2 separate regions of the Homo sapiens genome follow, and region 1 is reported to be linked to region 2. The links are microRNA targets in miRTarBase. Many come from high-throughput screens and were not tested one by one. Region 2 holds a microRNA gene; the other region holds the end of a gene's coding sequence.

Region 1 (3,310 bases), not on the chromosome of region 2:
CTAGAAGGCAGGGGCTAAGGTCATGGCCGAGTTCAGCCTCCACTTGCCAGGTAGCAGCAGAGAAAGAAAAGACTCAAGCCAATCTGAGTGGGTGGGGGGAAAATGTGACCATGGGAACCTTTTGGGGGTCCTTCAAAAAGCCTCCCACACATTTTCCTTTCCATGAAGAGCACAGGCTCAGTTTCAGGGCAGGCAGGGAGTGGGGTCCCTCAGGCATTAGCTCTGGCCTACAAAACCCTGAGGCATAAAGGGATGACATTACGGAGTAGGCCTTGTGCTGAGTCAGGGGAGAGGCTTAGGATTGGATGATGGTTAGTAAACCTTATAGAATACTTTGCTTAGAGTTTCATGGAATGTCCCAGAAGTTTACCTTAGTCTGGACCCACCCCCAGTCTGAACCTTCTGGAATTTTCTATGTACCCCAGATTCGGGGGCTCACAGGGAACGTTCCTGGCTGGGATCTTGACTGAGAAAACAAACTTCAGAGGTCTATCTCAAGGAGCCCATGCTATTAGACCACTAGTGCTTTACAAACCCACATCGAAAGGAGGCCACCTGTTTCACTAGAACAAAAAGCCCTTGCCCCACTGTTTCTGTCGTGCCTGCTTTACTGGTTGAGAAGCACTAGTTTCAGAACATTTTGCTAAACTCCACTTCGTGCAGTTTGTTTTTCCAGAAAAAAGAAACTCCACTTGCTGCAGTTTTGTTTTTCCAGAAAAAAGTCTCTGTCCTGTTTTCTAAATATGAAACATAGTAACAATAAATGTTCTTTTAAAAAGTACATATCCCCTTCCCCCAAGTCCAGGCTCACTGAGCCAAACAGGTCTGAACCAGATTGGGCTCAAATCTTTTTTTTCTTTTTCTTTTTTTTTTTTTTTGAGATAGGGTCTAGCTTTGTAGCCCAGGCTGGAATGCAGTGGCAGGATCGCAGCTCACTGCAACCACGACCTCTCAGGCTCAAGCGATTCTCCCACCTTAGCCTCCTGAGTAGCTGGGACTACAGGCACTTGCCACACCCGGCTAATTTTTGTGATTTTTGTAGAGATGGGGTTTTGCCGTGTTGCCCAGGCTGGTCTCCAACTCCTGAGGTCAAGTGATCCACCCGCCTTGGGTGGATCCCAAAGTGTTGTGCCAGGCCCCAGATCTTCATTACTGCATCATATGATCACTGCAAAGCCTGGAGTAGGGGCATACCCCCAACCTCCGAGGCAAGAGACAATCAATGGTTTCCCTTTTTTTTTTTCCTTTTCAGGCTAGATTGGCACAATGATGGAATGGTTTTCAAGAGGCCAAGTAGGACCAGCTGTGGGTTTATCCCATTTTACCTAAGGATTTTACACAATACATTGAGTGCAGGAATGGCACGCAATGATTGCACTCAGTAATATACCAAACCACTCCTGGCTTTGTTTAGACCCTAGACTTGGGCCCTCATCCTTCTCGTAGACCTCTTGCGAGGATTTTCCCCTTTTACAGATTCACACTCAGTCCCGAACAGAAACACTTGAGCACCTACAATCTCACAGCCAACTCCCTGCCAACGTCCAGTGACTCACAGTTAAGAGAGCTTCAGCAGCAGCTCTGACCAAAGTGATGACCAACTACTTAACATGAATTAGAAACAGAGCAGAAAAAACACGCCTTTAGCCTGCTCTGCGTAAAGAACCAAGTCTCCACCATGAACACCAAGCCACCAACTCCCCGTCCCTCAGTAGTCCTGTGTACTCCCAAAGCCCCAAAATTTACCCCAGCCTCAAGCAGCCTTGTTTAAAAAATTAAGGAAGGGCCTGTGATAAGCACTGCAAGTTAAACAGAAACAGGGGACTTAAGTGCAGAGTTTGTCACTCTATTTCTGGGAGGGGATGGGCTGCACAGTGTGCAATGGGGCTGGCTGGTAAAGGGAGGACCAGGTGACAGCCAGCCACACTGTCTCAAGGATGAACCTGGCCCTGCTAGCATTATGCTGTAATCCCTGTGGATTAGAACTATGGATAATAGGGCCGGGAGCAGTGGCTCATGCCTGCAATCCCAGCACTTTGGGAGGCTGGACGGGCAGACAGCCTGAGGTCGGCAGTTCGAGACCTCAGTCTGGCCAGCATGGTGAAACCCCGTATCTACTAAAAATACAAAACACTAGCCAGGTGTGGTGGGAGCCTGTAATCCCAGTTACACAGGAGGCTGAGGCAGGAGAATCGCTTGAACCCGGGAGGTGGAGGTTGCAGTGAGCTAAGATCGCACCACTGCACTCCAGCCTGGGCAACAGAGCGCAAGACTCCATCTCAAAAACAAAACAAAACAAAAAACCCCCCAAAAACTATGGATAATAAAGCATGACAGACCTCAAGATGCCAAATGATTTTCTCCTCTGCTGTCATGCCTACAGAGTAACTTCTCCAAGGTCACACATTAAATATGGGCACAGGAACACTCATTCCTTATGCTCAATGACTTTTTCTCACTCCTACATGCTATCAACATAAGGAGGAGTGCCCCAGGGGGCTGACCTTAGCGGGAGGAACGACAGGCTCTCCACCGATCCCATTCTTACCCTGGACCAGGTCTCACCTGCGGCTTGGGGAAGTCACAGAAAGACAAGTTTCGTACAACCCCAGACCTTTTCTTTTGGTAGTCAACAATTGGTCACATTGCACATTTCAAGGTTACAGAGGCCCACCATACACATGCGGGGCAGGAGGAGATAAATCTTGCTTGGGGCTAAACAATAAAGCTACAGCGAGTGTTCCAGAAGTTGACCACATCTGGAAGCAAGAAGACAGACTCTGGAAGAAGCACCCTAGAGACTCCAGGAACCCCCTTCACTCCTGGGCTTTCGGGACTCTACAGCGTGGGGCCTCTTTCTCAGACATCGAAAGGCCTCCTTTTCTGGACCACAGTGGAGCGATGTGCAGGTCATCGGCTAAGCTGGGCGGGTCGGGGAGGGCAGGGGGAGTACAGTTCCTTCGGATCCCAGCAAAGGTAGACTATCAATGGCCAAGGGTTCAGAGGCAGGAAAAAAGGCCGTTTCTGGGGGGTTGGCTGGGGACACTCCCCTTCCCTTCTCTCTCCGATTAAATATAAAAGCCGATGATGATGAAGATTGAAAAGATGAGGAAAATGGCAGCCGTGTCTCGGGTATCCTCCCAGCGGAGGCCTTTCATGGACCGATACTCCTGCCGTTTGCGAAGGGCCTCCCGCCGGGCCCTCAGGCGCCGTTCCCGCTCCAGTTGTTCCCCGTAGTGGGCCTGGTAGAAGGCGTCAAAGTTGAACATCGTGCGGTTGGCGCCGGGGGAGGCCCGAGAACCGTCGTGGG
Region 2 (3,646 bases):
ATCCTCTCCAGCAACTATTGTTTCCTGACTTTTTAATGATCGCCATTCTAACTGGTATGAGATCGTATCTCATTGTGGTTTTGATTTGCATTTCTCTGATGGCCAGTGATGATGAGCATTTTTTCATGTGTCTGTTGGCTGCATAAATGTCTTCTTTTGAGAAGTGTCTGTTCATATCCTTTGCCCACTTTTTGATGGGGTTGTTTGTTTTTTCTTGTAAATTTGAGTTCTTTATAGATTCTGGATATTAGCCCTTTGTCAGATGAGTAGATTGCAAAAATTTTCTCCCATTCTGTAGGTTACCTGTTCGCTCTGTCGGCAATTTCTTTTGCTATGCAGAAGCTCTTTAGTTTTAATAGATCCCATTTGTCAACTTTGGCTTTTGTTGCCATTGCTTTTGGTGTTTTAGACATGAAGTCCTTGCCCATAAGTTTTCTCATTTTTCTTAGTCTAGCTAAAGGTTTGTTGATTTTATTTTTTCAAAATAGCAACTCTTGGTTTCAGCAATCTTTTCTAATGTTTTCAAGTCTATTTTTTTATTTTTGCTCAGATTTTTATTATTTTCTTTCTTTTACTGACTTTGGTCTTAGTGTGCTCATTTTTCTAGTAACTTGAGAAATAATGTTAAGTTGTTAATAATGTTCTTTTTCTGACATAGGTATTTATTGATATAAACTTCTACCTTAAAAGAACTCCTTTTGCTGAATCCCATAAGTTTTGGCATGTTGTGTGTTCACTGTCTCAAGATATTTTTTAATTTCCCTTTTATTTTTCTCTTTGAATCGTTCATTGTTAAAGGTCACGACTTTTAAATTTCCATTTATTTGGAAATTTTATGAAATTTTTAAAATTATTTATAGTATCATACCATTGAGGTCAAAAAAGATATGTAGTATAATTTTAATATTTTTAAATTTGTTAAGGCCTGTTTTGTGGCCTACCCTGCAATCTATCCCAAAGAATGTTTCATGTGCCCTTAAGAACATGTATTCTGCTAATGTTGGATGAAATGTTCTATATCCATAAGTTATATATGTCTCCATTGATATGTATATATCCATTAAAAAATCAGTTAAACTACACTTTAAAGAGACCGAACAGGTATATAGGTAGCTGATATCTATATATCTCTTTGGTCCCCTTAAAGTGTAGTTTCAGTCTGATGTTTTCCTGTAGATTTTCTTTCTGAAGAATAACCATTTTTGGAAGCTGGATAGTGAAGTTTCCTTGTATTTTCTCCATTCATATATATTAATATTTGTTTTATATATTTAGGAGCTGTGATGTTGAGTACATTTGTATTTAGAATTGTTATGTCCTCTTGATAAGTTGACCTCATTATTATATAGTGACCTTCTTTGTCTTTTACAATTTTTGATGTAGTCTACCTTATCTAGTATAGATATTTCTGCTCTTTTGGTTTCCATTTGCATGAAATCTTTTTTCATTCCTTCACTTTCAGTCTATGTGTGTGATTAAAGGTGAGGCGAGAATTTTATAAGTAGTATAGAGTTGGGACTTTTTTGTATCTATTTATCTACTTTTTATTGGAGAATTTAATCCATTTACACTCAAGGTAATTATAGATTTACTACTGTCATTTTTTAATTGTTTTCTAAATGTTGTATAGATCCTTCGTTACTTTTTCTTGATGGCTTCCTTTTGGATTAGGTAATTTTCTCTAGTGATATGCTTCGATTCCTTACCTTTTATTTTTGCGTATTTACTATAGGCTTTTGTTTTGTGGTTAGCATGATGTTTACATAAAATATTGTATATTTAAAACAGGCTAATTTAAATTGATAACTTGACTTTGATTGCATTAAAACTTTTTACCGTCACATCTTATGTTTGACATCACAATTTATATGTTCTTCTATTGTGTATCCCTTAAAAATTATTATAGCCAGCTATTATTTTTAGTAGCTTTGTCTTTTAACATTCATATTAAGAATAAAAGCAGTTTATATACCATTACATTATTATAGTATTTTGAATTTGACTTCTTAGTTTTACCAGTCATTGTTATACTTTCATATTTTTTCATGTTGCTAATTTTCTTTCAGCTTATGGAATTCCCTTTATCATTTCTTGTACAACTGATCTGATGGTGATGAATGTGCTCAGCTTTTCTTTATCTAGAGAGTTACCACAAATGTGCCAATAACATACACTGGGTAAAAGACAGTCTCTTCAATAAACAGTGCTGGGAAAACTGGATATCCATATGCAGAAGAATAAAACTAGACCCCTATCTTTTGCCATGTACAAAAATAAAATCAAAGTTGATTAAAGACTTAAATCTAAAACTTCAAAGTATAAACTACCAGTAAACATTGGCAAAAATCTCCAAGACATTGGTATGGGCAAAAAATTCTTGAACAATGTCCCAGAAGCATAGGCAACCAAAACAGAAATAGACAAATGGGATCACATCAAGTTAAAAAGCTTCTGCACAGCAAAGAATACAATCAACAAAGTGAGTCAACTCACAGAATGGAAGAAAATATTTGCAAACTACCCCTGACAAGGGATTAATAACCGGAATATATAAAGATCTCAAGAAACTCTACAAGAAAAAAATCCAATAATCTGATCAATAAGCAAAGCCTTGAATAGACATTTTTCAAAACACATACAAGTGGCAAACAGGCATATGAAAAGGTGCTGAACATCATTGATCAGAGAAATGCAAATTAAAACTACAATGAGAAATATTTCACCACAGTTAAAATGGCTTATATCCAGAAGACAGGCAATAAATTTTGTCAAGGATGTGGAGAAAAGGGAACCCTTGTACACTATTAGTGGGAATGTAAATTTGCATAACTACTACAGAGAAAAGTCTGGAGGTTCCTCAAGAAACTAAAAATAGAGCTACCATATGATCCAGCAATCCCACTGCTGGGTATATACACAAAAGAAAGGAAATCAGTATATTGAAGAGGTAGCTGCACTCCTATGTTTGTTGCAGCAGTATTTACAATAGCTAAGATTTGGAAGCAACCTAAGTGTCTCTCAACAGATGAATGGATAAAGAAAATGTGGTACATAAACACAACGAGTACTATTCAGTCATAAGAAGAATGAGATCCTGTTATTTTCAACATGGATGGAACCGGAGATCATTGTGTTAAGTGAAATAAGCCAGGCACAGAAAGACAAACATCATATTTTCTCACTTATGTGTGGGAATTAAATATCAAAACAATTGAATTCATGGGCATAGGGAGTAGAAGGATGGTTGCCAGAGGCTGGGAGGCATAGTGGGTGGCTGGGCAAGTGTTGGGGATGGTTAATGGGTAAAAAAATAGTTAGAAAGAATAATACCTACTATTTGATAGCACAACAGGGTGACTATAGTCAGAAATAATTGTACATTTTTAAATAACTAAAAGGATATAATTGAATTGTTCTTAATACAAAGGATAGTAAGCTTGAGGGGATGGATACCCCCATTGTCCGTGATTTAATTATTTTACATTGCATGTCTGCATAAAACATCCATAAATATATACACCTACTATGTACCCACAAAAACAAACTAAAACTAGAAATACAAATGATACATATTAGATGCAGATACAAATTAGATACAGATGATCTAAATAAGATAATCAACAACTTTGGCCTAATTGATATTTAT

The links. The annotated mature microRNA hsa-miR-3144-5p reads AGGGGACCAAAGAGAUAUAUAG and lies in region 2 at 1,121-1,142, opposite strand. An mRNA with a match to its seed (bases 2 to 7 or 8) in the 3' UTR can be bound and repressed. Matches are read on the target gene's strand: a 7mer-m8 pairs with bases 2 to 8, a 7mer-A1 pairs with bases 2 to 7 and ends in A, and an 8mer does both.
Region 1: miRTarBase lists DNAJC30 as a target of hsa-miR-3144-5p. Seed matches in the 3' UTR shown: 7mer-A1 at 3,038-3,044.

The regions. Positions count from the first base shown.
Region 1 is chr7:73,679,675-73,682,984 of GRCh38, forward strand. It overlaps DNAJC30 (DnaJ heat shock protein family (Hsp40) member C30), which reads right to left. Exons shown (of 1, transcript NM_032317.3): 1 at 1,244-3,310. The coding sequence ends at 3,069. Among named protein-coding and RNA genes, the nearest start is that of DNAJC30, 2.1 kb to the right of the region's middle. RefSeq lists an enhancer at 3,201-3,290.
Region 2 is chr6:120,012,687-120,016,332 of GRCh38, reverse strand. It overlaps MIR3144 (microRNA 3144), which reads right to left and starts at 1,154; the gene lies at 1,076-1,154.